Homo sapiens: one gene and its partners. The protein of the gene in region 1 purifies or fractionates together with the protein of each later gene. This does not show direct contact. Each region holds a gene or a part of one and is shown on either strand. Other genes may lie near its edges.

Region 1 (8,635 bases):
GAGAAAGGCTTCAGAGTCTGCCCGAGGGCCCTTACCATGAGTAACTGGGGGGGATAGGAGAGAACCCCCACAGCAAGTCCTCCCCCCAGACCATGCTGTCTCCCAGCTCACAGAGGGCTAAAAAGTGTTCTTCCAAGAGAGGCAGGCCTGCCTTTGGGGACAGTTTTACTACCTTTCCCTCAAGTCTGACAGTCAGGTGACCATAATATAAATTATGTATTTCAAAACATATCCTATGCCACAGTCCACAGGGAGAGAAGATGCTTAAAGTAAACCCAAGAACAAAACCAAGCAGGTGTCTTGCATCTCATTAGTCATGGAAATTCATCAGTAGTGCTTAAGTTCCCAATAAAAACATGGCTTGCTTCGCTGAAAAACGTGAGGCCAGCAGGCTCAGCATAAAGACAAGCCAGTAGGAGCTTTGGAAAGACAGGCACTTCCTGTAAAGAAATACAAAATGCTCTAGATTTTTACAAGCCTATCCTTAAGCCTTCTCCAGAAGTTAGATTTCCAGGTTTTAGTCAACGCCACTTCAACAATTTCTGAGCACACATTGCTCTTGAGACAGAGGTGCGGTGAGCTGAGGGGCATCCCTGCCCTTACATAGGCTTCTGGTCATTAGAAGCAGAATGACTACAGCTGTGAGAACTAGGAAGCGGGCCCGGATCTGCCAGAAGAGTTGGGAGAGAAGCTGGGATGAGAGGAAGGCAGGCTGAGAATAACTGCGAGAGGCCCTGCAGCTGCGTCTCCCAGGATGAGGGGAGTGGGCACAGGAGCAGGTGGGTGTGCGCCAGGGACACGAGTAGTCTGGATAATCACAGAAGAGTTTCTGTAGATGTGCCGGAATGAGGCTGGATATCTTCTAAGGTGGATTTAGACTCCAAGAAATGGGAAGTGACTGAAAGTTCTTAATACATTTTATTTATTTACTTATTTTGAAACGGTCTAGCTCTGTTGCCCAGGCCAGAGTGCAGCCAATCACAGCTCACTGCTGCCTCTACCTTCTGGGCTCAAGGGAGCCTCCTGCCTCAGCCTCTCGAATAGAGTAGTGGGGATTACAACCATGCACCACCACGCCCGGCTATTCTTTTCTATTTTTAGTAGAGACAGGGTCTCCTTATGTTGCCCGGGCTGGTCTTGAACTTCTGGGCTCAGGCAATCCTTCCACCTCAGCCTCCTTAAGTACTGGGTAATTATAGGCATGAGCCACCACGCCTGGCCACTGACGTATTTTAGAGATGTGTCGCTTACAGAATCTACAAGTCACCAATTTTAAGGCATACCATTTAAGTAAGCCATATAGGCTGCTGACAACGCTATGGGCACACCATTGACTAAGTCAACCGCTGATTTCAGAGACGTTAAACTGTGAAAGAGCATATCTTGGACAATGAAACAAGTTCCTTATGGAGGCATGAGGGGTTGGCGATGGGAGACAGCCTAGTGGCCGACTGACTTATCAAGAGGCTCTGAAACCTGGTGAAGTGAGGGCTGGCAAGGGAGGAGGTGAGAAGAGGATGTGAAAGGTCTTAGAAGTTTAGGATAAATAAGATTTAATAACTTGTCACATAAGATGGAAAGGAAGAATTCAGAGAGTGCTCTGCCATTCCTCTCTGGTTACTCGAAACTGCTATCTATTCAGATAATAATTACATTTCCTCTCACAGGTGAGGAGACTCAGGAGCAAAAGATTAAGTAACTTGCCTAGTTGAGGGCAGGACCTTGAGTTTCCATAGGCTAGATTCTCAGCAGAAGCACTGTGACTGCCTTAGTGCCTGCAGCAAAATCGCACACCTGGATGTGCTAGTTCCCACAGCAGACTCTGATGCGTGCCCCCCAGAGTTTAATGTTCATCCAGTCCCTCGTGATGGTCCAACCACACAACATGCAGATCTGTCTTTCAGCAGAGGACTAATTAGGACTTTGACTTACGCACACTTCAGCAATTCAGCAATACATATAGGAAGTCTTAGAAATGCTCGATCCATTTGAAAGAAAAATCCCACTTGAGGAATTCATTCCAAAAGTGTCAAAAAGACACAAAACAAACAAGCCTCCCCACCCAACAAAAAAACACACACCAAACACCAGAGACACTCAGAACTGGTATTCCATACAGAGTAAGTCAAAGTGGAGGATTGGAAAACTACTGTCCAAGAATGAGAATGAGTAACAGTTAACTATGGTAATACCAATTGGCTGAAAGTTTTAAAGGACCATATTATACTTCAACAAAAGTTTACTTAAAAAGCCAAAAGAGAAAGTCACATAGCATGTAATAAGCAAGTTTTAATGTGAAGGGGGGAAAAGGGCAGAATATTAAAATTATAAAGTTATGTCTTAAGAAAAAGGATGAGGGAACCCCGAAAAATGAAGTTTGAATAAATTATGACTATAGCCATCCCTGTTTAATTAGGAGTTGTACATTAAAATATTTTAGTTAAAGAGCTGGCTCAGCCAAAGATCTGTCCTAAGAAGCTAAAGACACGGACCCATCCTGGCACATCTTCCCAAAGAAATATGAAAATGCAGACCAAGAATTGGTCCCATTCTCAATGATTTTGTGCTGTTATGTCATTATAAAGAGGCTGGGTACCATAGCAACACCACAGGGTGTGTCCAAAGTACTTCCTAAGATTAACAGACTTGTTCTGTTGGCTGCCAGGGCAAAACACAGTGTCCAAAAGAGGACAAGAGTAAACCCACCGGCCGGACAGGGGCTGTAAAGCCAGCCAGGCCTGGGGTCAACATTCCCTCTACTACCTGCCCCCAATCCCCCAATTACATAGCTATATGATCCTGGGCAAATTTCTTAGAACACTAAGAATCTGTTTAGTTTTTTATAAATTGAGAAGAAACACCTACAGCACTGGACTGCTCTAAGGCTTAACTGTGACATACAAAGCACCTTGAATGGTGCCTGGACACTAGAGCAGACTGCTACTGGGTGTGAATTATGCTAATGTCTCTGGACACCACTGGCAGCTGTCCAACACGGTCACAAGGCAGCCTGTCAAGAACATGGACACTGGAAAGAGCATCTGGATGTAAACCTAGGCCCTGACCTTTCTCTAGTGTTGTGCTGGACAAGCAACTTGACCTTGATGGACACTGACGTTCTTGTCTGTAAGAACAAGTTATATAAACACCAACTTTACAGTGGTGATGATTAAATGAGAAAAGGAGTATGAAAATACTACGAAATGCTAGCTATTACTACTTGGAACATTACAGGGGTTTGTTAAAATGTAGAATCCACCAGCCAGGCAGAGAGTTGGGGTACCCCTAATCCATGGCAGTCCGGGCTCAAGTATCTCTCTCCATATGCATGGGCCTTGCCACACACCTAAGCCTCAGCTCTTGCCAGGCTTGTTTCTGATTTACCCTTTTACAACTCATCCTTCCTTTCCCCAGATTTAGTCCACATTCCTGGCAGCTGATTCACCCAGAGCACCTCTTACAGGCTGCAGTGAAGTAACATCTATTGTACTGTAACCATCTCTTCCATTAGACTGGGCACTCACGGTGGAATGAAATCAAGTCTCTGGGTTCCCCACAGTATACCACATGCACACCTAGGTGGTCGATAAGAGGGTGAAATAAATCAAGATAAAAGTCATGCGCTGGAGAGGTGTAAAAAGAGAAAGAACACAGAAAGTAGTAGTAGGGTATGCAGAATATGCAAGTTAAAGACAACTAGGTCAGGATCCAGAATTTAGAAGTCACTAAGGAGGGTTCCTAGCCCTACAGATACCAGCAAAGGCCACATTTGAGGTGAATATGAGCAGACTACAAGTTCTACTTAGGAAGCACCCCTCGAGAGTTTATACTATAAAAAGCCTTACCCAACGCAACCCCAATTAACCAAAGCTCTCAATTAAGGAAGGGCTGCTTCTGTCTCCTGGGGCTGGTACCTAAAATCCCCAATGCACATAAAAAGTAGTCGGTCAGGAGCAAGAAGTCTGTGTGGTTGCCCCAAGTCATTCAAGAGTAGAGCAGAGAGCAGGTGGGGTCCCTGGCAGCTGAGACACACAGAAGGAACCAACAGAAATCAGCAGTGCCACAAGCACTGATCAATATACAACTAAAAACAAAGAGGAGCCATTAGTTTCTTTCTTTTTTTTTGGAGACAGTCTTGCTCTGTCGCCCAGGCTGGAGTGCACTGATGCGATCTCAGCTCACTGCAGCCTCTGCCTCCCGGGTTCAAGTGATTCTCCTGCTTCAGCCTCTTGAGTAGCTGGGATTACAGGCGCCCGCCACCACGCCCAGCTGATTTTTTGTATTTTTAGTAGAGACAGGGTTTCACCACTTTGGCCAGGCTGGTCTCCACCTCCTGACCTGAGGTGATCCGTCCACCTCGGCCTCCCAAAGTGTTGGGATTACAGGTGTGAGCCACCGCACACGGCCTGAGCCATTAGTTTCTGAGTAAAATATGATTATGCCCATTTTACAACCAAGAAAAACAGAAGAACCTAGAACTTAAGCTACCTGTCCCAGCAGTACCCCACAGCAGTTAAGAAAGCATACTCAAGTTTGAATGTCTGGCCTTGAATCCTGACTTGGTTACTTGCTTAGCTGTTTTACATTGGGCAATTTCACTAACCTTGGTACCTCAGTTGCCTCACCTATAAAATGAAGATAATCACGGTACTGACTTCACCTGATACATAGCAACCTGCAAGTTTCAGCTCTTATTTACAGGGTGAAACTGGGATTAAAACCTTCTGACTCTGAGTCTAGCATTTTATTGTATTGTGTTAACTTATATTTCCCCAATGCCAGCCAGCTCTCTGCCTCTTGACCTGGCGGCTCTCTAAACTCTGAGACCCAAGCCACAGAAGAGGATTCAGAGTTGCTTTTCTAAGGGCTGGGGAGGGAACGGCCTTGCTCTGCTCTGAAGGTTCCCTAGGCACTCGACAAGTTGGGGAAGTTTGCAGGCTGACAACCCATCTATTGCTAAGACCCTGGTCTATCCTATACTATTATAGTTCCTCCCTCAGCTTCTTCCTTCCCCTGCTTCCCCAATGCCCCTAACTAAACTCCCAGACAACTGTACTATTTTCTAAGATGCTACCACTTGTGACCCTGCATTATGTTCATGTGGGCATGCGTCCTCTGCATGCCTCGTGGAGAAAAACTCTGCATGGCCTCTTATAGTAGCCTGGCTCAAAGCCACTTGGTGTGCAGGCAAGATTACTTTCCAAGGCCTCGGTTCCCAGCCACCTAAAGGCATCGACATCAAACAATTGGTAAAGAACAATTAGTGTCTTATCAAGTTGAGTGTAAGCTAGGCTCCCGGCTCTCCCAAACTTCTAACTATTCTGTTATATGAGTCTTGAGAGTTTGTCCTGGATTAGTGTCTGTGAGTGTGTCCTCACTTGCTATTTGTCAGAAGAATCAGTGTGTGCCTTAGACAAAGCAACAGAATTTCTGACTGACAGTGACTCAGGCTTGCCTGCTGTCTAAGTGGCAGTAATCTTGAACTTTGTTTTAGGCACATTCAGGACAGGCATTCTCGCAATGGAAAACAAGGGGATAAAAGCAAACTGTTGATGCCTTCACCCCCCCAACCTTTATGTGAGAAGTATTTCAAAGTTAAAAACATAGGCACCAACCCTTCAACCAAATAATTTACAGGATTGTAAATGTGGTTTTAAAAAGCCTGGGAGGCTGGTTTGAGTGCTATCACTAACTCATTGTGGATAAAAGTTTTGTCCCTTTTCTGGGCTTCAGTTTCCTTCCTTGTGAAACAGGCAGCCAGGTCACACATCTAAGACCTCTTTCTATTCCTCCGAAGCTTCTGCTGTCTTAATGCCTCTGGGTAGGACGTGTTTGGTCTGTGCACAGAATGGAAGGAGACAATGCATTTAAGGCTATCAAACAAAATGGGGTAAGACCAAGAACAGCATTTCAAGACATTTCTCTTTTCGATACTGGATTATTTTACTGGCCAAATAGTGAAACGGACTCCCTTTGTCTCTTCGCCTATCCACAGTCCTAGGCACCCTACTTTCAAGCCCACCTTCTCCCTAACTCCTGATTCTCTTTCCTCTTAATTCTTGTGCAAAGCCCTTGCTTATGAGTTGACTGGTCATTTCCTCCAGTGATCTTGAATAGCATTTAAATCTTCTTCCAGTTCTCAAACTTTTCAAATGTAAGTTCCATTGGGGCAAGGGGTGGTGTGTTTTGCTTTGCTTTTTTTCTTTCCCTTCAAATACCACAGTAGGGACTCAGCATTAGGTTTAGTTGAGACTTCAAGGCAGATTCACACTTTTTGGCCTGTTCAAAATCATTCTGAGTTTTAGGAGGCAGGGCCAAGGGTGACTGTAAAGGACTTTTCTATTTAATGAGAGAGCTGAACCAGGTTATCTCTACGATTCCTTCCAGCTTTAACATTACTGGGTGGTATTTGCATGCTGTAAACCCAAGGCCCCAGGACAGATCAAGACCCCTAAATTTTGGAATCCAGAATAAGCAAAGTTTAACCTGGAGTAATTTTGGTATCTGTTCTCTATTTTAAGAAGCAAAAATGATTACCTATTTACTACTTGAAAAATCCACACATTGCAAGTCAGCTTGAATGTCATTTTCATAAGCAGAAACAACACATATTTTCTTCACTGCTCTGTCTCTGAGCCCTGAACACCGTAGAGGTTCAAATATTTTAAAGACTCCAAACAACTGAAAGGGACCAATCCAATCCAGTGTACGGCCTAAAGCAAAAGATTTCATTTTTCTAGGTCCCAGTTTTAGTTCACAAAGGGAGGATGAAAACACCAGTGTTTCTGTCAACTTGGTGTGCCTGACAACACAGAAAACAAGGTGTGTTCTATGATGAAACAAGTTTGGGAAACTTGAGCAAGAACAATGTGAATCTTGAAGGGGGTGAGGGTAGAAGAGTACAGAACATGGTGTGAACTTATATAAGGCAGTGAATTCCTCCCTATGTGGAGCACTTGCTGACATTAACAGTTTGCACAGTGACCCTATGTACCTAATGTCATAGGTACATACCCACTATCTTACAATAAAGGAATGCTCCTCACAGGGTTCAAACAATTTGCTCCATGTTTTGTGCAGTCAGTCCTGGGATGAGCCAGAGGGTCTAACCCCAAAGTCCATGGTACTAACCACTATGCTATGCTGCCATGGGGTCACTTTGGAATTTTGACAAATTCTTCAGGTGAGGAAAGTCCACATAGTATTTATATGTTGAGAGAGTAAGCAAGAGCTTCAAGCTGAGGTTGAAGGTTCGAGACTGGCGTCAATGAACTGAGGACACAAGGAATAAACATTCGGCAAGGCAAATTCCTACATCCCAAGGCAATCCTGTAGTAGGAAGTCCAGACCATTCATTGGCAGTAAAGGAGAAGACTAAGAGAAGTCTGAGAATAGAAAGACTTCAAAGTAAGTGATGCGCTCCTAGAATATAGGTAAGATAAACGAATCCCCTAGGGAGTCTTTTTTTTTTTTTTTTGAGACAGGGTCTTGCTCAGTCGCCCAGGTTATAGTGCCATTGCATGATAATGGCTCACTGTAGCCTCAACCTCCCAGGCTCAACTGATCCTCCTGCCTCTGCCTCTCAAGTAGCTGGGACTATAAGCCTGTGCCATCAGGTCCGGCTATTTTTTTTTCTATTTTTTGTGGAGACCAGGGTCTCACTTTGTTGCCCAGGCTGTTCCCAAACTCCTGGGCTCAAGCCATCCTCCCACCTCAGCCTCCCAAAGTGCTGGGATTACAGTCGTGAGCCATTGTGCCCTGCTGGAAGTCTTTTCAAAACAAAAACACTCACCCTGGGGAGAGGGTAGGCTTCTCAGAATGGATGGGGCACGGATGGACTTTATAAAGTTAGACATCTAATTAAAGGACTCTAGGTGATACTGATTCATGTTTCCAACTCCACTGTCAAACAACTGACTTGCAATGGGACAAAGCGTTCTCTTGGGAAAGACTTGGGGGATCTTTAAGTTGTGCAAAAGTAACAAGATTTTGGGAAACCACCCCCTCCAAACTCACCCCAAATCCTACCCACTCTTAAAAAAGTTCATCCTCAGGGTGCAGAGAACAGCATTACGCCTTCGAAAGGATCCAGGCCTCGAATCAAGACAGATCTGGGATCCCCGTCACTTAAGCTCTGAGAAATGTAAGGAAACCAGGAGTACAGTCTAACTTCCCTTTCAAGCGGATTAACCCTGATCAAGTTATTTGTTCACTTCTAAGCCTTAGTTTATTTATAGAAAAAGGATAGAATTTACTTTTGAAGTTATTACCTAAAAATTACTTCAGCACTGAGACCACAGCTGGGACTCGGATTAGTAAACTTTCTTCCCCTGGATCCTCCTGCCTCGGAAAGTCTCCTCAAACTTTCTACCGCCTCTCTCCTCTCCAAGCAGACACTTAGCTACTGGTAGTATGAAAAAGGCTTGTGAGTACTGAGTAGTTAGGATGAATACATTCCCTAACTGCAGTTAAAACCCGGAAACTAAGATAATTAGTTCCTCCAGGACTGCAAGACCTCTTGCCTCAATGTACCCCATTTTCCTTTTAAGTAAAACCACTTCCCAGCCAGCCTCTGAGGTTAAGAAAAAGATTAAGAATGTAAAACGGAGGGAAAAGATGCCGGATGCTTTGTTAT
Region 2 (9,259 bases), on another chromosome or scaffold:
TCAAAGCCAGTCTTCTAACAAACAACCTTGTGCCTTAATAAATTAAAAAATAGGCTGGGTGCAGTGGCTCATGCCTGTAATCCCAGCACTTTGGGAGGCCAAGGCAGGCAGATCACGAGGTTAGGAGGTCGAGACCATTCTGGCCAATATGGTGAAACCCCGTCTCTACTAAAATACAAAAAAATTAACCAGGCATGATGGCGGGCACCTATAGTCCCAGCTACTCAGGAGGCTGAGGCAGGGGCATCACTTGAACCCAGGAGGAGGAGGTTGCAGTGAGCCGAGATCGCACCACTGCACTCCAGCCTGGCAACAGAGCAAGACTCTGTCTCAAAAAAAAAAAATTAAACAATTAAAAAACCCCAATATAGATAACTGATGTTAATACCTTTATTACCTCATAATCAGTCAAAAACTTTAGTCCACTCCTCTTAACCAATATCATAAATTTAAAAAAAAACATTGCCAGGAGGCCTTCAGTCTTGTAGATACAGACATCATTTATTGTCTCTTTTTCCATAATTTAGAATAAATGAAGCAATGATTAGAAATTTATCCCTCATGGCCAGGCATGGTGGCTCACACCTGTAATCCAACACTTTGGGAGGCTGAGGCGTGTGGATCACATGGTTAGGAGTTCGAGACCAGCCTGGCCAAAATGGTAAAACCCTGTCTCTACTAAAAACACACACACACACAAAAAAACAAAAAAACCTGGGCATAGAGGTGCACGTCTGTAATCCCAGCTACTCAGGAGGCTGAGGCAGGAGAATCACTTGAACCCAGGAGGTGGAGGTTGCAGTGAGCCGAGATTGTGCCACTGCACTCCCGCCTGGCAACAGAGTGAGACTCTCTCAAAAAAAAAAAAAGGAAAAAAAAAGAAATTTATCCCTCATGGCCGGGCGCGGTGGCTCACACCTGTAATCCCAGCACTTTGGGAGGCCGAGGTGGGTGGATCTCCTGAGGTCAGGAGTTCAAGACCAGCCTGGCCAACATGGTGAAACCCCATCTCTACTGAAAAAAAATATACAAAAAATTAGCTGGGCATGGTGGCGGGTGCCTGTAATCCCAAAAACTCAGGAGGCTGAGGCAGGAGAATCACTTGAACCTGGAAGGCAGAGGTTGCAGTGAGCCAAGATTACACCATTGCACTCCAGCTTGGGCAACAAGAGCAAAACTCCATCTCAAAAAAAAAAAAGGCCGGGCATGATGGCTCACGCCTGTAATCCCAGCACTTTGGGAGGCTGAGGTGGGCGGATCACAAGGTCAGAAGATCGAGACCATCCTGGCTAACATGGTGAAACCCCGTCTCTACTAAAAACAGAAAAAAATTAGCTGGGTGTGCTGGCGGGCACCTGTAGTCCCAGCTACTCGGGAGGTTGAGGCAGGAGAAAGGCATGAACCCGGTAGGTGGAGCTTGCAGTGAGCCGAGATCGCTCCACTGCACTCCAGCCTGGGTGACAGAGCAAGACTCCGTCTCAACAAGTAAAAAAAAAAAAAAGAAAGAAAAAGGAAATTTATCCCTCATAGTAGACTCTATAGCTGACTCTACTGCAAAGGCCATGGCACAACAGACTTTAAGTTCTCTTGCTAAAGTTGTGCTAGATAACGGAATTGCTGTATATTACTTACTGAGATACAGAGAAGTATGTATCTCTGTATGCAGATACTTCTCTGTATCTGCATACAGAGAAGTATGTATCTCTGTATGCAGATACAGAGAAGTATCTGCAGTTGCTCACACTTCTTGTTGCACAGAGATGAACATATCAGGTATTATAGAGATTCAGTTACAGGGGATTAATAAACAAGCTGCTTGGTTAAAACAGCTTGATCTTTTATCTAGCTCTTTCTTTGATCTATTTGATTTTAGTTAGTTTAGTTCATGTTGACCCTGGCTAAGGGGCATACTCCAAAGTCTTGGTATTATCCTCTTGGTAATCTTAATAGTAGTCTCCTATGTGCACTAAGGACTTTCAAAAGTTTTAAATGTTTACATACAATCATCCATAAAATGTCCATAAAATTTAAATAAATAAAAATTCCAACATAATAAAAAAAAAGTATCCTCTACTCTAACGCTTACCAGAAAATAACCTAAAGTCCTTATTCGCACCTTACAAAACCCACTGTTGTACTATTTCCCAATGGGATTTGCGACCAGATAAGTACATTTACAATGGTCAGAAAGTAATGTCAATGTCTAGGATTTTGGTCAACCTCTCTATTTTGGTCAAGTTGAGAGGTTGAACAAAAGGGGAGAAATTGTTAAATTGAGTTTAGCCTAAAGTTGCCTCCTTATAAGTTCAGCCTAAAGGTTTCTCTGTACACAGTAAATTGTAACCTAACTGGATGTATAAATGGTCTATAACCTATTATAACAATCGCTGAGTTTTGGCTAATTACAGGAGGCCAACTGTTCAAATAATACACTCAACCAATCAAGCTGTTTTTATATCTCACTTCTGTTTTCCGTACATCACTGTCCTTTTTCTGTCCATAAATCTTCTTCCACCATGCAACAGTGTTGGAGTCTCTCTGAACATATTCTGGTTCGGGGTGGCTACCTGATTGACAAATCTTTTTTTTGCAAAATTAAACTCTTATATTTAATTTGTCTAAAGTTTTCTTTTAACACTATCCTTCTTTTATATTTTGGTCTCTTTATGACATTACTATTTAGCGCTGCTTGATACTTCTATTTTTTTTCCAGACAGGGTCTCATCTGTCACCCAGGCTAGAGTGGCATTATCATGGCTCACTGCAAGCCTTGACCTCCTGGTCTCAAGTGATCCTCCCACCTCAGCCTCTGGAGTAGCTGGGACCACAGGTGCAGGTCACCATGTCTGGCTAATTAAAAAAATTTTTTTGGCCAGGAGCGGTGGCTCATGCCTGTAATTCCAGCACTTTGGGAGGCTGAGGCAGGCAGATCACGAGGTCAGGAGATCGAGACCATCCTGGCTAACACAGTGAAACCCTGTCTCTATTAAAAATACAAAAAATTAGCCTGGTGTGGTGGCGGCCGTCTGTAGTCCCAGCTACTCGGGAGGCTGAGGCAGAAGAATGGTGCGAACCCCGGAGGCGCAGCTTGCAGTGAGCTGAGATCGCACCACTGCACTCCAGCCTGGGCAACAAAGCAAGACTCTGTCTCAAAAAAAATTTTTCTTTTGTAGAGGCAGGGGTCTCGCTCTGTTGCCCATGCTGGTCTCAAATTCCTAGCCTCAAGAGATCCTCCCCTCTTGGTCTCCCAAAATGTTGGGATTACAGTTGTGAGCAACCATGACCAGCCAACACTTTTATTTCTATCCTCCAGAACTCTAATTTTTTTTTTGTTTTTTGTTTTTCGTTGTTGTTGTTTGTTTTTCTAAGGACAGGGTCTCATCTTGTCATCCGGGCTAGGGTGCAGTGGCACAATCATAGCTTACTGTAGCCTCAAACTCCCAGGCTCAAGTGATCCTCCTGCCTCAGTCTCTCTCAAGTAGCTAGGACTACAGGAGCGTGCCATCATGCTCAACTAATTTTTTTTTTCTTGTAGAAGCGGGATCTTGCCATGTTGCCCAGGCTAGTCTCCCAATTGCTGGCCTTAAGCCATCCTCCCAAGCTTTAAGTCTTGGTCTCCCAAAGCGCTGGGATCATAGGCCTGAGACACTGCCCAGCCTGAGGCTCAATTTCTAAATATTTGACCCAGTACTTCCTTAGGGCACAGCCTGATTGAAAAATTGATGGTAGCTTGTACTTTTACACTCTCTCCAAAAACCAGAGAATTATCTTCCCCCAATTCCATTTCTCCAAATTTTCCAACAACTAATAGTAGGCCTGGCTAATCTGGTTATAGACTAGGTTATGCAAGTGAGGTGAGATCATGGAATGAAGACATATCTGAGACCCCCAATGAGACCAATGTTTCCCTTGACTATCCAATTGTTTGTGCAGATTTATTTGTAATAGTGGAATGGAGCTTCCTGAACTGATGGCCAATCTAATGTTTTCGCCTGGAATCAGAGAAATCTGGATTAGTCAAATAGCCCCGGTTTACCTGCTTACTGTGTGACCTTGCACTGTGTAATCTTTACACATTTTCACCTGAATTACCTCATCTCTAAAGTATGGCTTTATCAAATGAAATGTTTGCAAAAATGTTGTGTAAAGAGAAAAACATTCTCCAAGTTAATTTGTGGTTTTTTTTTTTGGAGACCGAGTGTTGCTCTGTCTTCTCCCGGGTTCAAGCCTTACTCCCGCCTCAGCCTCCTGAGTAGCTGGGATTACATGGGCGCGCCACCACATCCAGCTAATTTTTGTTATTTTTGGTAGAGACGGGGTTTCACCATGTTGGCCGGGATGGTCTCCTGACCTCAACTAATTCACCCGCCTCGGCCTCCCGAAGTGCTGGGATTACAGGCGTGAGCCTGTAAGTTAGTATCTAAATCACACAGGCGTTGAGACTATTTTTTTCTGGCTCAGTGCCACTGCTTTATTAGGCTGACATTTTAATCTATGTATTTTTGCACTTAAACTGGCAAGTTGGGGCGGGGCGCTCAGCATTTGGGTCTTATTCTTAGGCAGTAAGTTCGATGCAGGGCGAAGCCCGGGCCTTGACGTTCTCTTCAGCAAGGATTCCGCCCGTCAAGCGCCAGCAGCCGCTCCTAAGGAACTCTGATCCGCACACTGGCTCTGTAAGTCAGCCTCTGGCTCCTGCTTTCTATTTCATCTCTTCCGGTAAAAAGATTTCTGTCTTTTGGCCGCAGTGGCGCGTGCCCACGCTAGGTCGCTGAGGAAGACCCTTCGGGCCTTCTGAGCAGCGTAGCTGTTACTGTGGCACGTCCTAATGGTTCGGTCCAACTTCAGGAGACCGCCTGCCCTTAGGATGACCAACAGCTAGTTCAACTCAGGATAGCCAAGCTGCTCTCGGCAATGCAACCAATAGGGGAAGTCTTTCCAGAGCTCTTTCTCAGGAGCGTTGATTGGCTTATTCTCACGCCAATCAAGGTTTTCTGCACAACTGGCTTTTCTGTCACCAGATGGGGTGCAAACCGCTCACTCCCTCGGTAGAGAGGGCATAAAGCAGAGACGACCGGGAAATACCACAGAGGAGCAAATCACCTCCGGAAGTGGCGTTTTGGGTCGCTTTCTACCATGCAGTCCAATGAACTCTTTCTTTTGGCAACAAATTCCGTCTTCGAGCCCGCCCAAGGTGAAGAACATTTTGATTGGTTGTTTAGTCGGGGGACACAGAGACTCACGGGAGCTTCGTCCAAGCCCTTGCAGGTATTGCTCAGTTGGCCTGTCAATCATCTCGCTCGCTAGAAGGGGCGGAAACTGGCAGCCCTTTTGGCACCGCCTCTTCCTGGGCTGCTGTGCGGGGACGCAGCGAGGCCACCCCGGCTGGGAACAGCCGCGTGGGCGGGGCCGCATTGCACTCTCTGGACAGTTCCTGGGCCGCGAGGCGCGGGGAGTGGCCCTAAGCGCGGGGCTGTACGGGGAGGGCCGAGGCGTGGGGCGAACGCCGGGGCGGGGTCGGGGCGGGGCCGGGGGAGGCGGAAGCGGCGCGTGAACCTAAGTCGGAGTCGCGTTGAAGCCAGCGTCCGGCCGGCAGAGCGGCGTCGGCGGGGTTGGCCGGGGCGGTGTGGCGCTAGAGCCTGGGCGGGCCGGGGGCAAGGAGTCAAGGCTTGGGGGCGGGTGACGGGCGGGCGGAGGGCTTGCCCCCGTGTGGTCCTCGGAGCGGCCCGAGGTCCAGCCTCCCAGCGGTCCCGGAGGAGGATGCGACCGGGGGGCCCCGGGCGGGGCGGTCGGCGGCGGCTGCAGCGCTAGCGGCGCGGGGGCTGGGCGGCGGCGCCGGCATGAGGCGCAGGGCCGGTGTCCGCGGGAGGGTGGCGCTGCCGGCGGCCCGGCCGCTCCCGCTGCAATTGCTCGCTGGGCTCGTCGTGCCCTGCCAGTGGGGCCCCCGCAGCTCTCGTCCCGGCCGCCGCTGGTGACCACTCGCCGCCCCTCCGGAGGCTTCACCCGCGCCCTCCCCCAGGACGCGCCAGCGGAGCTCCGGCTCCTTCGCCCTGGACGCGGAGGCCGCGGTGTGCGGGGCGACGGCGAGGCCGGAAGATGGCCTGGGTGCTCAAGATGGACGAGGTGATCGAGTCCGGGCTGGTGCACGACTTCGACGCCAGCCTCTCGGGCATCGGGCAGGAACTGGGCGCCGGCGCTTACAGCATGAGGTACTGGGCTCCCTGGGCGGGGAGAAGCCTCTGTCTCCTTGGGGAAGGCCTGCGCAGCCCTGAGTCTCTGCCAGATGCGGCTGCTCCCAGAGGTGCGCGGGCCTCCTGGGCTGCGGGGTCGGAGTCCTGCCGCGTGGCGGTCGGGGGCCATGGAACCCCAAAGGCCTCTGCTCGCCCTGGTGACGGGCGGGTGGGGGAGGATGGCCCCGCAAGCGTCGGCCTCGGACCGCTCCTGAGTGCTTCATATTTGCTGTAAAACACGCCCAGCTATTAGGATGGCTTGGGTTGGTGGGGGAAGGGGCTTCTTTTCCTTATAAGTGATTTACAAGTCCCATTGGAGCTAGAATACACTGTACGAAAAGGCAGCACTTATATTGGGAGAATACTGTCTAGCGTTTTGGGATCAGTTCCTACTTTGTTGTCCTACATTATGATCTTTTCTGGCTGCAGATTTTAATCACTTGATGTTAGTAAATTATAATTGAAAGAGCAGCGGTGGGAGTAGCACTGTGACTTCGTTTTGTTCTTTTGATTGTCTCAAAGTGAAGTTTCTCATTTTGGAGACTACCCTCTCAGGCTGTTTCCTCTTGAGGGTTTTAAGATGCAGTGATTGCACCACAAATAATTGTTTAGTCTCTGCTGTCTGTACCAGCAGTCATTCATTTTAATATGGAGAGATTGAAACAGATCTGAGCTTAGTCTCCGCCCTTTATCCTTTTTAACTGTTAGGAATTTGGAAACTCTGTATTTTTTTAGTGGCTTTATTGAAATATAGTTTACCATAGCGTTGACTTGACTAATAAAGTCTAAAAATCAGTGGTTTGGCAGCTTTTCAATAATGTGAATTAAGTGTAGCTTTCTGTTCTTTAGAAAATGTCTGATGTTTTGGAAGTGCTCTACAGTTTCCCAGTAGCATTCATACATCTTACTGCAGCTCTAGAGGAGGACTTCTGGGTTAAAGCTGGCCTGGAATCTTGGTGGCTGCTCCTTGAAGTAATTGGGTCTTTAAATCTTAAGGAGAAATTCTGAGCCATAAAGAACTCTCAGAAAGGTTGGAGACATTTCTTGGAGTGTGGAAGTGAGTAGTGGAAGGCATATTAAACCTGGAGTTCCCCAGCGTCTGGCTCTGATTTGGTCTCTGTTGGGCTTCCTGAACTTGGCACCTCTTCTCTCTGCAGTTGTATAACTTAAGGCCTGTAGATGAGTTGGCTTATTTTCTAAAACAGCTGTTTCAGTTGTTGAGGAAATTGAGCTACTGAAAGTCATGGAGTCACCCCAGAGGGGAGTATTAGAGGCAGTGCTTCTCTAGTGAAAACGCACTCCTCTAGTGCCATTCTGCTCCTTAGCTCTCTACTGGAAACACGAGGCTTATAGTCAAGGCAAAGGAGGCACGTGAAGCAAGTTCAATATGTGTCTCTCCTCAGTTGCTTCTCTTTTATGGTAAAATGAAAGTTTGCTGCTGAAAAGTTTACTTATTGATAGCTATTTTGAGCTTTTACTTTTTTCTAGGGTTTTATTTGACCTGTACTTTGATTTAGTGATTCAGCCAACTTATTAATGTAATAACTTCTGTGTATGGTTTATTTCCATGAAAAGGAAGTACAATCTTGATGATTTTAAACCTTTCCCTGACCATGTATTTTTAAAGTAATGTGTGAGATCTTTGTAATTCTGTGTAACCTACAGTACTCTTTACAGGGATAATTTTCCCTTGAATTCTTTTTTGGTTGTGTCATTTAATCTAAATTTTCAAAGAAGTTTGAAGGTAATTACCATTTTTAAGAAGGTTTTTTTTTCGTATTTAATTGAGTCCTCAAAAACTAAGAGATGAGAGTGCTTGCCTCTTGCAAATTCAAGGCCCTTTGTTTGAAATTCTCAAACTAAGGAAATTCCAAAATTGACTCGATAAGGAGAAAATCTGAAGAAGGCGTTAGCTGCTGCAGGCCTCCCTGGACTGCAGTTGTACTTTCCATGCCTGGCCCTGGAGCCCTGAGAGGGTTGGAGTGCCTATGAATGGCCAGCTTGAGCATTCAGTCACTTCCTCTGGCATCCAGTGGGAAGGAAAGCTTATCTTTCAAAGTTCAAGAAGTAAACTTGAAGAAATTACTGGAAAAATGACTTCTTGATACAAATTGATTTTGTAGGCAGCTTTCTATTTTTCTTTCAAAATGAAACATGCTTACTGTATTTGCTTTTTGGATGGCTTAAAACAAGAGGTATTTCTTAAAAGACTTCTCTTAGGGAATGGTTTCCTCATCTTTTGGGAGGATAGTTTGAAAGGAAGAAATGGCTTCTGTCAGTGGTCTGACTTAAAATTAGGCAGGTGTGATGTTTGGTATGCTTGTAGACCTAGCTACGTGGGAGATTGCTTGAGCCCAGAGGTTCAGGGGTGTAGTGTGTGCTATGATTGCACCTGTTAATAGCCACTGCATTCCAGCCTGGGCAAGAATGAGACCCCCTTCTCTTTTGTTGTTTCCCCCCACCCCTTTCTCTTAAAACAGTAGGAAAAATATGTTTGTGTAAAATAATGTAGGCTGGTAATATTGGGAATATATTGGGGCTAATTACTAACATTACCTTTGCTTCTCTTTTTCTTTTGGCTCTGGTTCTCATGTGTTCTGTGTGTGCTGTTGTATTATACTTTTTTGTTGTTGTTTTTGTTTAGTCTTTTTTGGTGGTTATATTTGGATGTGAGATGTGAACTGCAGCAGATTCTATTTGAAATGAGGCAGGTCATAAATGTTTTTAAAAATCTTGGTTACAGTAACAGGATTTTAGAGATGGATAGAGACCTTCCTTAGAAACCTTTTAGAGTCTAGACCACTCCTTTTCTTATACTGTAAATGCATTATCTGAGGGTCATAGATGTTAAAGTGATTGGCTTAAACAGATGAAGGCTGATTTTTCCCCCACACAGAGTGAAGACTGAAACTCATGGTAACTTGAAATCTGGGTCATTCTCGTTTTGTGAAGTATGGAGTAGATAACCAAATGACTTTAAAAAATAATACTCATTAAAACTCAAAGAGGGTCTTTGGACCACCTGGTAATTT
Region 3 (4,921 bases), on another chromosome or scaffold:
AGTCCTGTGTGTCCATATCCTGCTCCCCTTCCCCTCCTTCTCTAGGGGTTTCTCTTTCTCTCTCAAAACAAGAGTTTAGAGAATTAACATTCCATGGCTAGTGAGTGGGATGCAAAAGTCATCGTCAGGACACCAGCATCACCTCTTCATATCCTCCTGGGAGCCACTGGCATGGAGCAGCCGCCGATGGGAACCGTCAGAGTTCTAGGGACATTTCCAAGTCAGTCTATTAGAGAAGAGTGAGTGGCACGTCCTGGAATGTTGGCCAACTCTCCTAGGTTTCTTTTGCTTCCCCATTTGCTAGTGGATGGGGAGATGGGTTGGGGGTGGGGGGTCTCTATGTGCCTTGCTTTTGCAGGTTGACAGTCTATGCCACACTGGAGCAGAAAAACTGACATGAGCCAGAGGGAAAAGTGTGCCACGGCTATGTTCTAGGCCCACTGCCTCAGACATAGCATTGAGACGAGTGAAATACACACTTGGTCATCCACGGAGGCTTCCAAGGCCATGGCCAAATACAGTTAGAAGAGAGCCAGGCTTCCGTACCAGCTCTGAATGATGCTAACCAGATTCTGTCATTCTACATCCACTTTGCCCAGACTGTATAGACACGACCTATGTTTCACCTCAATACCTCTCCCTTCCTGGGACAGGGTTCTTAGACACTAAATGCTTCTCTCTGACTTTTTTGCTTAAGGGAGTGGGATGAGTAGTACATTTTGCCCTTGTCCAGGCATGTTTAAGGAGCTCCTACTGGACAGGTTGCAGACTAGCAGTGAGTCAACAGAGCCCTGTTTGCCAGCTCTGTTGCCAGTATAGATGCAGTGATGTGGCGGCTATGTTTCCCAGAGACAACAGTGGGCACAGCTATAGTGTCACCAACATGGCAGAGATAGTTTCAACTGTGCCTGTTACAGGTGTGGCACTCGAAGGACCAGAAGCAGCGGTTTGGAACATGGGTAACTGGGAGCAGAGGACTGGAAGAAACAGAGCTGGGCTCCTTCCCTGTCCTGACAATGTAGGAGAGGAGTTGTTGTGAGGCCAGCCCTGCCCGTCGTTGAAATTCTGGACCTACCCTCTAGCTAGGTCCCTTCCCCTGCTCCAAAGTTGAGAAGGGGGCCCCACTGCAAACTTGAAATTACTTACCTGAAGGTGATGTATATACCTAGGCTCCAGCTGCGCTCAGCCACACCTGTCTTAACATTCAGTTTCGGCACTGAGCCAGCTGCAGTGTTGTCAGGGGTCCCCAGGCCCGTGGTCCCTAACCACGATGGGACATGGTAATCGGCTGCTGGCACACCACCTGCCCAGAGCTACAGGAGGTCTGGTTCTGGGGTGGAGTTGGTACAGTTTCTGAGTATGGGAACTTCCCTCCCCAAGTGGTGGGAAGTTACAGTTAACTACAGCTTACTCAACTATCACTTCCAGAGGTTTAGTGTTTTTAATATGGGAAAGAGGAGAAATCTCAGGTCTAATCAGGGTTCTGCCCATCAGCTTTTCACTGAAACTTTCAACTGTGTTTTGTTTTTTGTTTTTTTTTCCATCTTTCAGTTTCTAGCTGTGTTTGCCTTCTCCCTCCGCGTTCCCTCCTCTTTTTTTGCTTTTGGTCTCCTTTCCAGCTTCATGTCTCCATGAGTTCAGCTGTACCTCATCTCCTGTTAAAGCAGATCATGTCCACTTTTTCTTACTGACCTTACTCTAAGCTACAGTAGCTGAGGGAGGTACGGTGAAGACATGTAGCGTTTGCCTTATTCGGAGCCTGAGGAGCCCAGAAACCCATGCTGTGAATCCCAAAACTCAGCGCTCCTCAAGAGCTGTGAAAATCATGATACTTTGTCACAATTTTGCCTGAAAGGGTCTTTGGCACGGGCTCCAGAGCCAACCTGAGGTCCATTCCAGATCCCACTATCTGGGCGTGAGACCTCCCCCGTGGCTCCTTCCTTGCCCACTGAGCCAAGAGCAGCAGGGAGCGTACAGGACGGGAGCAGCAGATCCAAGGCCGCGGTGCAGCCAATGAATGCACGGCCGTCGCTCCGTCTCCAGGCTGGAATTCCGTCTCATAATCAATGCCATGTACATTAAGATCTGCGAAAGACCAACTTTTAGGCAGTGATACTTTTCTCCCATTCCCTGGGGTGGGGGGAGTATGCAGTTGGTGCTTTCTGTAATTCCCTTGTTCTGTTTTGTTTCTGTAAGCTTTTCCCCTGGTGTCATGGAAAGGACTTCTTAAATAACCACATTGTGGGTGGCTGTATCCAAAGTTTAAATAATTGGCCAGAAGTGCAGAGTATCCTTTCCTGGATTCGTGTCAGAAAAGGGCTCCTTGCCACAACTGAACTTACTGTATAAAAACCTGGCTAGGGAGATTTAATTTTACTAAAATTACAGTTTAATGTTACCGTCTAGCCACAAATCAAGCAGCAAAAGCTATTTTGATGATGAAAGGGGGTCCCCGTTGAGCTGGCCATCTAGTGCAGTGTGCTCTCAGATTCCATGTTTGTTGATTGTGTGTCTTCACAAGCCCCTCTCTGGTGCTGAATTGGATTTGAATTCTTGGTGAGAGGCCTCAGCATCTCCTTGGGCTGGTCTGGGCCAGTAAAAATAGCTGCCTGACATGTTTATATATTATCATGGTCAGTAGTTCAATGAAATTTGTACATTTTTGGTAACATTGGTATACATGATGCCCCTGCAGTTCCTTTTCTGTTTGGTAGTTTGTGACTCTAAGATTTCCACTGTTATGTGTGTTAATTTATGAAAATAAATTTTTTTGAAAACCTTTCAAATAACTCTCAAGGCCGTTACTTTGTTCTCGTGGCTTGGCAATAAGTTAAAATAGACATTCCAAAGTTATATGTCACAGTAAGCATCGTTCCTTCCAAAGTGGTCACCATTTTCTGAGGAGTATCCTGTTGTAACTGTGGGACCAGCTCAAACTGATTAACCATTGCTTAAGTTGTTACAGGTGAGACAGCCAAAATTGCCTGAGCGTGCACAGTGGAAAAAAGCTTTAACGTTTTAATTGTTACCACCACGAGCCTGGCAGGCCGACTGCATTGGCATCACCTAGGACTAGATAGGAATGCCATAAAAGCTTGACCCACTTCCAGATCAGGGAGACATTTGAGCATTGCTTCCTGTCTCTGTGCCAATTGACTTTTTTTGGGGGCGGGGGGTGGAGTTTCACTCTGTCGCCAGGCTGGAGTGCAGTGGCATGCAATCTCAGCTTATTGCAACCTCCACTTCCTGGTTTCAAGGGATTCTCATGCTTCAGCCTCCCAAGTACTGGGATTACAGGCACCCACCAACAAGTCCAGCTAATTTTTGTATTTTTTTTAGAAGAGGGTTTCACTATGTTGGTTGGGCTGGTCTTGAACTCCTGACCTCAGGTGATCCCCCCACCTCGACCTCCCGAAGTGCCCGGATTGCAGGCGTGAGCCACTGAGCCCAGCCTCATTTACTTTTTTTGAGACAGAGTTTCACTCTTGTTGCCCAGGATGGAGTGCAATGGCACGATCTCAGCTCACCGCAACCTCCGCCTCCCAGGTTCAAGCGATTCTCCTGCCTCAGCCTCCCGAGTAGCTGGGATTATAGGCATGGGCCACCACGCCTGGCTAATTTTATACTTTTAGTAGAGACGAGGTTTCTCCATGTTGGTCAGGCTGCTCTTGAACTCCCAACCTCAGCTGATCTGCCCGCCTCGACCTCCCAAAGTGCCAGGATAGCAGGTGTGAGCCCCCGTGCCCAGTCCCTCGTTTACTTTTTAAAAGATCTCACCACTTAATACTTGTCCTTCCCAGCTGTTTATGAGGTTACGCTATGAATCTTCTGCTTCTCATTTAGCCAATGGAAACTGGTAAAAGAATGACTGAAAACACCTCTGTAACACCACACTGATATATTCCAGAAAGAAGCATGATTCCTGGTGACATTCTTCCTCTGCCCAGAGCAAAAGCAGTGAGTGCCCAGTTTCCCTTCTTGGCCTCAGAACTGCAACAAGGAATTCTATCCATGTAGTCTTCTATTTACAGAACTTAACTGCGTGACAGCTGTGCTTCTTGTTAGGTTTCATGGTTATTTGGAGAAATGTACTCTCCTACACCATTTCTTGAGAAAAGAGTTGCTAATTAACAGTTAAGGCAGTATAATCTCTTTAACCTCTCATTACAGAATCTTGTGTTGGTAGAGCCTGGTGAAGACTGATCAAAACTAATTTAAGGCTGAGCGCTGTAACTCATGCCTGTAATCCCAACACTTTGGGAGGCCGAGGCAGGTGGATCACTTGAGGTCAGAAGTTGAAGACCAACTTAGCCAACATGGTGAAACCCCATCTCTACTAAAAATACAAAAATTAGCCAGGCATGGTGGTGCACGCTTATGATCCCAGCTACTCGGGAAGCTAAGGCTGGAGAATCACATGAACCTGGCAGGCAGAGGTTGCAGTGAGCCAAGATCACGCCACTGCACTCCAGCCTGGGTGATAGAGCGAGACCCTGTCTCAAAAAAAACAAACCACTGATTTAAGAATCCTGGCCAGGCGCAGTGGCTCACGCCTGTAATCCCAGCACTTTGGGAGGCCGAGGCAGGCAGATCATGAGGTCAGGAGATCGAGACCATCCTGGCTAACATGGTGAAACCCCGTCTCTACTAAAAATACAAAAAAATTAGCCGGGCGGGGTGGCGGGTGCCTGTAGTCCCAACTACTCAGGAGGCTGAGGCAGGAGAATGGTGTGAACCCGGGAGGCGGAGCTTGCAGTAAGCTGAGATCGCACCACCGCACTCCAGCCTGGGCGAAAGAGCGAGACCCTGTCTCAAAAAAAAAAAAAAAAAAAAAAGAATCCTCTCTGTGGTGTCCTGTCCTCTTCCAGCAATGGAAAACACATTTCTATTTACTTTCCCTTTTTTTTTTTTGAAACAGTCT
Region 4 (8,806 bases), on another chromosome or scaffold:
GGACCCACACATGGGTTCTGTTTCACCCAACTTTATTAGAGTTTATGAGTCAGACTCATGTTTCTCTTTGGCTTGTGCTTTCATTTACTGGCATTTGTAGGCTCAATGCTTACATAATGATGCAACACAAGTCCTTCCACAAGGGCTGCCCTTGGGCTTTTTGGACTACATAGTCTTTCCATTTAAAAGTAATTTCTACTCAGAAAAAAACCTAATTTGCTCCTTTGAGTTTCAGCTGGCTAGCTCTATGTCCATGGGAGTAATAGGCAAATTATGACCCAAAGCAATTTCCAAGGAATTTTATTTATTATCCAAAATAAGAAAGTAGAAGTGTATGATTAAGTTCCAAGACTTGTTTAAAAAGTGTCTACTGGAGCTGGGCGTGGTGGTACATGCCTGTAATCCCAGCCACTTGAGAGGCCGAAGCAGGAGGATCTCTTGAGCCCAGGAGTTTGAGACCGACCTAGGTAACATAGCAAGAACTGTTTCCAAAAATAAGTGTTTACTATGCCAGGGCACAGGATTCAGATCCTGAAGTCAGCAATGGCTCAAGATGAGGCTACTTCTGATATCATTATATCCACTCCTTATCTCCTACCAAAATATACTTCTTTCTATTCCTTTTTCACCACCTTCTGCCTTTATTTAACCTTTTCTTTTATCCTTGTTTCCATTCATTCATTCTCTATCCATTTATTCAGCCCACATTTATTGAGTGTCTACTGTAAGCCAGGTATTGTTCTGAGCCATGTAAGTACAAGAGTGAATAAGAAACAATCTGTGCTCTCATGGAGCTTACATTCTATTGGGGTAAGAAACATAATAACTAAGTGAACATAAAATAATAGTATGATGAATAGTAGAAAGGAAATATACAAGGTGGTAAAATAGAACAGGTTGAAGAAGAAACGAGAACTTCATTTAGACTCACTGGCCAGATTGGCCTAAGAGTATGAGATTTGGTCTAAGATCTAAGAAGAAAAGCATGACCACTAGCAAGCCTTTCAAAGTAAGAGAAAAGGCAAAGGGAATAGCAACTCGAAAGGGCCATGAGTTAGGAAAGGAACTGCCATGTTTGAGGAACTGAAAGGAGTCCAAGAGAGATTTTGGGGTGGGAGAGGGCAAGGAAGGTGTTAGGGAGAGGGTTTAAGAAACGACATTCAGGGCCGGGTGCAGTGGTGCACACCGGTAGTCTCAGCACTTTGGGAGGCCGAGGCGGACGGATCACCTGAGGTCAGGAGTTCGAGACCAGCCTGGCCAACATAGTAAAACCCCGTCTCTACTAAAAATACAAAAATCAGCTGGGTGTGGTGGTGCACATCTGTAATCCCAGCTACTCGGGAGGCTGAGGTAGGAGAATCGCTTGAACCCAGGAGGTGGAGGTTGCCGTGAGCTGAGATGGCGCCACTGCAGTCCATGCACTCCAGCCTGGGAGACAGAGCGAGACTCCATCTCAAAAAAAAAAAAGAAAGGAATGACACTCAGGAATTAGGGTGCCACTAGGTTTCACAGGAACTTTATCAATTATGGCAGAGAATGTGATTGCCTACCTTACTGCCACAAACTCTTCCTCCTTGCTAACAGAACTCCAGTTTTGTTTAGGTAGCAATGCATCCAGCTCCAGACAACAAATCATAATTTATGTAAGCCAGTTCTGGCCAATAAGATATAAGGATTTCACTAGAAGGTTTCGAGAAATATCTTTATTCTTCATATGAGAGCCACAAGTGAATAAAGCTGTTTTGCCTCCTTCTCTGTCTTCCTGCTTTAGCTTCTGCCATATTTTGATGTGATGTCCAGAGCTGTAGCAGCCATCCTGCAACCATGATGTAAGAAGCCTGAAGATGAAAGTAAACAGATTTAGGATGCTGGGGAGGAGGGATAGGGATTGAAAGAACCTGAATCTTCCTTTCCTTTTCCTTTCCTTCCCTTCCCTTCCCCTCCCCTCCCCTCCCCTCCTTTTCCTTTCCCTTCCTTTCCTTTCTTTCTTTTGCGACACAGTCTCGCTCTGTCACCCAGGTGGAGTACAATGCTGTGATCTCAGCTCACTGCAACCTCCACCTCCCGGGTAGCTGGGATTACAGGCATGCACCACCAGGTCTGCCTAATTTTTGTATTTTCAGTAGAGACGGGGTTTTGCCATGTTGGCCAGGCTAGTCTCGAACTCCTGGCCTCAAGTGATCCACCCGCCTTGGCCTCACAAAGTGCTGGGATTACAGGTGTAGGCTACCACGCCTGGCCTGAACCTGAATATTTAATGACATCTTCAAACTGCTAAGCCTATCCTGGGATCATTCTTTTTGTTACATACACAATAAATGTCCTTATAGTTTAGGTTTCTTTTAGCTGAGGTTTCAGTTATTTGCATTGAAAGCATATAATTGATATAGCAGGGGTGAGACATGATATGATTTATGTATTTTTTAAAAATCTCTCTGGCAACAGTATGAAGAGATTGTAAGGAGCAAGAATGGAACAGAAGCATGGAAGACTACTGCAGTAGTTCTGAGAAGCAATCATAGTGTTCTGGCCTAGGGAGTATGCAGTAAAGCAGGAAAGAACATAGATTCAAGATGTATTTGGGGGTAAAAACAGTAGGACTTGCTGTTGGTATGAGAGGTAAAGGAGAGGGAGGAACTAAGGCTGAACTCTAGGTTTTGGACTGGATGGTGATGCCATTGATTGACACGGAGAAGACCCAAAGAAGTTTGGGGAAGGCGGTGAGATCAAGGGTTTGGATGTGTTAAATTTAAGATGTGTATGAACCATTAAAATGAGATGACAAATCAGCGGGTAGACATGAGTCTGGAGCACAGGGGTAAGGTCAGGACTTGGATTTCAATTTGAGAATTATAGATACACAGATGTTATTTAAAGCCACAGGAATAAACAGGATTCTCCTCACTGGCCAAAATATGAGGAACTCTAAAGTTAGAGGTCAGCTAGAAGGGAAGAAGACTGAGGAGAAGTAGTGAAAGAGGTAGGAGAAAAACTAACAGCATTAGCGTTTATATAGGGCTTACTTTATGCCAGGCACTATTCAAAGCACTTTGTGGCTTCATGGAAGCAAAGAGAAAAATGTTTTTCTTTTCTTCCTCCCTTTCCAGTCTCTCCTGTGACTTTCACCCCTAAATTCAAAAGGTTTAGGTGCAAAAGTGATTCTCAGCTTTTATTTGTAATTAATTTTATAGTAATCTTGTACTGTTATAATCTTGTACTGTTATAATACTATAATTATAGTATACATTCATTGGAAAAATATTCAAACAGCACAGTACAGGGAAGCTAAATGTGGAAAGTAAAGATCCTCAGAAGCTTTCCTTCCTAGGCTCACCCACCAGAGGTAATCATTAACAGTTTCTTGCATATCCTCCAGGAATGTTCTGCGCAAACACACACACACACACACACACACACACACACACACACGGACGCAAACAAATACCATCCCTCTCTCTTCTCTCTCTGTATACGTACGCATATGTTTAATTCTGCAAGTTGCTTTGTTTAAAACTCAATACCTTTTGGAGGTATTTATATATCAGCATATTCAGATACAATTTACTTTTTTTAAAAAGGGTAATATGCCATTGTATTAATATTCCATACTTTAAGTTCCTCTATCGATGGACAATTAGAATGCTTTTTTTTTTCTTGCCACACACACACAAAAATTGCTGCCAGAAATCTTTGTAGTAAATCTTTGGATATTGGTGCAAAAATAATTGTTGCATACTTTCTTAGTGGTGAAATTGCTGAATCAATCCGCTCAAGCCTCTCATATTGTCAAATTACTCCTCCTAAAAGGTTATACTAATGACATTCTCACATCATTTCCTTACATCTTGGTACACATTTGGTATTAAGCGACTTCACAAGTTTGCCAGTCTAAACACATGGAAAAAAATGGCGTCATGTTGTTTTTATTTGGGTCTCTTTATGAGTAGGGCAGCAAGACCTGATTGTTAAACGTTCAAGTTTTGAAGTTAAACTCCCTGGGTCTGGATCCTACTTCTTCCTTGTAAAATGTGTGATCTCGGGCATGCTGGGTCTACTTCCTCGTCTCAAAAAAAGAGGATAAAGAGAGTACATATCTTTAGGCTTAAACAAGATACGCAGGCATACAGGAAGCCCTTCTTATGCGTTCGCTACTAGCGGTACTGATCCTAATTTTTTTGAAGCCGTGCCGGCTCCGGTACTTTATTTTTGGTGTGCTCCTCCAACCAACCAAGTTTCGCAGAATTCTGTTGTTGCCTGTAATTAGAAATGAGACGAAAATTGGCTCCGCTTGTTCAAAATTCTCCTCCCTCCGCCCCAACTCTGCCTTAGAATCACTGGTTTAAATGTCAATGTAAAGGAATGAGTTGCAATTTTTAAGCAACATGTAAAGTGCACACCTGGTCTGAGTACCTCCCGGCGGCCAGGACCCGCCGTTTTCGGTATAGGGAACACCAGATAACAATATATAACGCTACCTAACAAACGTTTCTCCACCCACAGCGCCATTAGCGGTTAGGTTTGCAGTGCCGAAGAGCTGCAAGAAAACGGGGCTTGAAACAGGAATACAATTGCAGATCCACCCACTACACGCAAAGGGCCCGGGACGCGCCTCCACAGCCCCGCCCCAACCGGAAGTGACGCACCGCGCCGACTATTTCTTCCGCCGTCCGCCGGTGGCGAGGCCCAGGCTGTCGCCGGGTGTGCAGCGGCGTCGCGGCCAGTAGAGGGATTCTGGGTAACGGCCCGGACCCCCGGCTGGGCTTCTGGCTCGGCGCAGCAGGTTCCATTCACGCCAAGTCTGTTGGCAGTGGCAGTTGTAGGGCCAAGGGCGGTTGTAGGACCCGGAGCAGCCGGACATGGAACAACCGTGGCCGCCTCCGGGACCCTGGAGCCTCCCTCGGGCCGAGGGTGAGGCTGAGGAAGAGAGTGACTTCGACGTGTTCCCCAGTTCTCCCCGCTGCCCGCAGCTGCCAGGCGGCGGCGCCCAGGTGAGAAGGGGCCTGCGTTCTGCGGAGGGATGGAGTGGTGCTGTCGCCAAACCCCTGGAATGCCGCGTCTCCCAGACCCTCTTCTACGCCTTTTTCTACGCCCACCTCACTGCCAGGGGCCGGGGACCTGGGACCTGACGCCTGATGCCATCCCACCCCTTTTATGGCATCTTCGGAGGGCAGACGGGGTGGCCATATATTACCAACCTCCACCTCCACGCACATGTTTTCTTTCGCCTTGGCTGATTCCTGTTCACTCTTGGAATACCTTCCTCCATCTCCCCTTCCTGACAGCACTCAGATTTGGGGCGGCTCATGCTGTAACATTGACCCTTTGTCCTCTTGTGAGAGGTTTTCCCCAAGCACTTTATTCTGTTAAAGGCTCTAGCATACTTGTGCACAGTTGCTAGGAACAGTGAATGATTGTAGTTCAGCATCACACTGAGTCCTGACAAAGATTTCACATGCGATTTTCACCGATGTTGACAACTGAGTAAATTCTTTAAATCTCGCTTTTGACGCTGGCGTACACCTCTCCCATTCGCGTGACCATCTTTGCCTTACTGTTTTGTTTTTTAGTTTTGCTTCACGTCATTCTCCAGTGAAAATATATACGCATATACTTGTGTTTTCCTTCAGACTTCTCTTAGGTTCCTGGTATTGTGTTTTCAATCCAGCATTCCTGCCTTCCTGCGACTGAAACGTATCCAAATGTGATATACTATTAAGGATTTTTCAGGGACCTATCTTAGGGGATACTTACATACTCGCATCACCTTGTCCTGTTTTTTTCTCCGAATCCGTGTGTGTTTTGGAAGTATATTTCAGAATCACAGACTAAACACTAATATATTCAATGGATCATAAGTGTCTGCCGCCTTCTTGCAAAATGGGGTTCCCAAGAGTGTAACAGATTTAATAGTAGTTTTCCTCTCAACTTATTTTGCTAGATGTTAATGAGAATGAGTTAAATTGCTTACCAGTAAGCGTGACATTATCAATCTTATGTCCAGCTAACAGGGTTAGTTGGCTTCACACAGAGAAAAATGCTGTTTCATAACCACTGTCTGTACTTTGGCCAGCTAAGTCACTGGGGAACTACAAGACATTTTTTAGGAGGACAGAATGAGAGTTGATGGGTCCATCATTAGTCACCCACTAATTTTGGATCACTAGTGTCATCTTTATATACAAAATGTATTATAAGCACATGATGTGCTAGGGAGGAAAGAAGAATGAACAGCAGATGCCATTGTCAATTTTGAAGGCATATGAAGAGAAAAAAGGGTGTCAAGAATTTCAGTGCATTGTGGTTGAATTACAGAAGTAATCTAGAGAAATATCTGTATGTTAATTTCTTACTTGTGCACTTCTAAATTTGTTTAGCTGGAAGAGATTTTAGAAGTGAGTAAGCTTATCTCTCTCATTAAAAGTGTTTTCCCTGAGGCCATGTAACTAGTTAGTGGCCAGGTTAAAACTAGAACCCACTTATGACTCCTAGTCCAGTATATTTTCCCACCTACTGCACTGCCCACCAGAGTTCGAGACCAGCCTGACCAACATGGAGAAACCCTGTCTCTACCAAAAATACAAAATCAGCCTGGTGTGGTGGCGCATGCCTGTGATCCCAGCTACTCGGGAGGCTGAGGCAGGAGAATTGTTGGAGGCAAAGGTTACAGTGAGCCGAGATCACACCATTGCATTCCAGCCTGGGCAACAAGAGCGAAACTCTTGTCTCAAAAAAAAAAATTTTTTTTGCAAACTGATTATTAATTCTGAGTTCATGTGTTTATTACAAACCTACTTATTGGTCTTACTGGCTTTAAGACTTAAATTTTTGGATTGGAATATTTGGAAAAAATAAAATGTTTAATTGATTAACATTTTATAATCCTAAAAAAAGCTTTGGCTTAATTTTATCAAATAAGGGGGATCTAGACTTCTTAATGTAGTATGTGATATGTAGTTCTTAGATCCAATTAATGTAAAGGCAGATCATGTTTAATGTCCCTCTAAAACTTCTGTATGGTCATGGATTAGAATGTGACCTAATATTTTATTTAATATCTGAATACATGTTGGATAGTTTGCCCAAATGGCCAAATGTTGTCTGGGTAGTTTGTGGAGAAATAAGACATACATTATTTTTAGAATTTTTCGATTTGAGAAAAGAATATTTGCTCCCAAATAATTTGAAAATGCAAGATAATTTCTATTTATCCATATTACCATATTACTTTTCTTGATATATTATCCTTTCTCTTTTTTTTTTTTTTTTTTTGAGGCAGTGTCTTGCTGTGTTGCCCAGGCTGGAGTGCAATGGCACGATATTGGCTCACCACAGCCTCCGCCTCCCAGGCTCATGTGATTCTCCTGCCTCAGCCTCCTGAGTAGCTGGGATTACAGGTGCCCACCACTGTGCCCAGCTAATTTTTTTTTTTTTTTGAGATGGAGTCTCGCTGTGTCACCCAGGCTGGAGTGCAGTGGTGCAATCTCGGCTCACTGCAACCTCTGCCATTCTGGGTTCATGCCATTCTCCTGCCTTAGCCTCCCAAGTAGCTGGGACTACAGGCACCCGCCACCATGCCCGGCTAATTTTTTGTATTTTTAGTAGAGATGAGGTTTCACCACGTTAGCCAGGATGGTCTCGAGCTCCTCCTCGTGATCCGCCCGCCTCGGCCTCCTGAAGTGCTGGGATTACAGGTGTAAGCCACCACTCCCGGCCATGCCCAGCTAAGTTTTAAAATATTTTTAGTAGAAACGGGGTTTCGCCATGTTGGCCAAGCTGGTTTCGAACTCCTGACCTCAGGTAATCCGCCCGCCTCAGCCTCCCAAAGTGCTGGGATTACAGGCGTGAGCCACTGAGCCCAGCCAAAAGAAGTTTTATATACAAAAGTTCTTACATCTTTTCTTACAAAATAAGTTATATAGCTTAATTTTTCTCCTTTTCCTGGCTCTGTTTTAAGCATAGCTAGTCTACAGTTATTCTTGATCCTATTCTAAGATAACTATTCTTGATCCTATTCTAAGATAACAAAAAGTAAAAATAAATATTTTATTTTAAAATATTATATTTTATATTAAAATATTTTATATTAAAATATAATATATATATTAAATATATATTATATTTATATATAAAATATATTTTAAAATATATTTTAAAATATACTTTATATATTTTATATATATATTTTATTTTTATATATAAAATATATTTTATATATATTTTATAATATATGAATATATATTATAAAATATACTTAGGGACATGGTTTATAGTACCTTGGCTCCAAACCTGCTGAATGAGTAAATAAAACATCTGAATAGCAAGTGTCCACATTTGTCCCAGTACAAACGTGAGTTTGCCTGAAGACTCAGCTAAGAGGTAGGGTCCTTGGTTACTACTTGCCTCAGAATTGTTTACCACCACCAGTCAGTAAACAAATAAGCATGATATTGTATGACAAACACCACAACAGAAATATGCATAACTTGGGTCGGGAGACACTGGGTCAGAAAAAGTTTAGGGCATGCCAGAATCTGGATGAAGATAGGAGTTTCTGTAGGAGTTACCTCGAAGAAAGAGGATTGCCAAATTGAAGTGAGGGACAAGGGTGGGAAAGGGAAGAATAAGCAAACAAGTAGAAGAGCAATGGGAACTGAGTCTAAAGAGGTAATGGGAAATAACATCACGAAGGGCTTTGCCACAGAGTATGTACTTTATCCCAAAGCTAAGAATGAAAAAAAAGATCAGATTCATTTTTTGGAAAGATCACTCCAGTCTAGTGGAGTGGAGAACGGCTTGGGATAAGAGT

What was found.
Region 2: the proteins of STK35 (region 1) and UBP1 purify together in Homo sapiens (affinity purification with mass spectrometry; 2 studies listed by BioGRID and IntAct, with this or other methods). This does not show direct contact.
Region 3: the proteins of STK35 (region 1) and PRR14L purify together in Homo sapiens (affinity purification with mass spectrometry; 2 studies listed by BioGRID and IntAct, with this or other methods). This does not show direct contact.
Region 4: the proteins of STK35 (region 1) and CDC37L1 purify together in Homo sapiens (affinity purification with mass spectrometry; 2 studies listed by BioGRID and IntAct, with this or other methods). This does not show direct contact.

What each region holds. Positions count from the first base shown.
Region 1 is NC_000020.11:2,103,999-2,112,633, reverse strand, and holds part of STK35 (serine/threonine-protein kinase 35), read right to left. Parts: intron 1-8,635.
Region 2 is NC_000003.12:33,436,683-33,445,941, reverse strand, and holds the start of UBP1 (upstream-binding protein 1), read left to right. Parts: upstream 1-5,536; 5' UTR 5,537-6,093; coding exon 6,094-6,206; intron 6,207-9,259. UniProt on the Homo sapiens protein: Functions as a transcriptional activator in a promoter context-dependent manner. Modulates the placental expression of CYP11A1. Involved in regulation of the alpha-globin gene in erythroid cells.
Region 3 is NC_000022.11:31,679,212-31,684,132, reverse strand, and holds the end of PRR14L (protein PRR14L), read left to right. Parts: 3' UTR 1-2,786; downstream 2,787-4,921.
Region 4 is NC_000009.12:4,674,912-4,683,717, forward strand, and holds the start of CDC37L1 (hsp90 co-chaperone Cdc37-like 1), read left to right. Parts: upstream 1-4,657; 5' UTR 4,658-4,856; coding exon 4,857-4,988; intron 4,989-8,806. UniProt on the Homo sapiens protein: Co-chaperone that binds to numerous proteins and promotes their interaction with Hsp70 and Hsp90.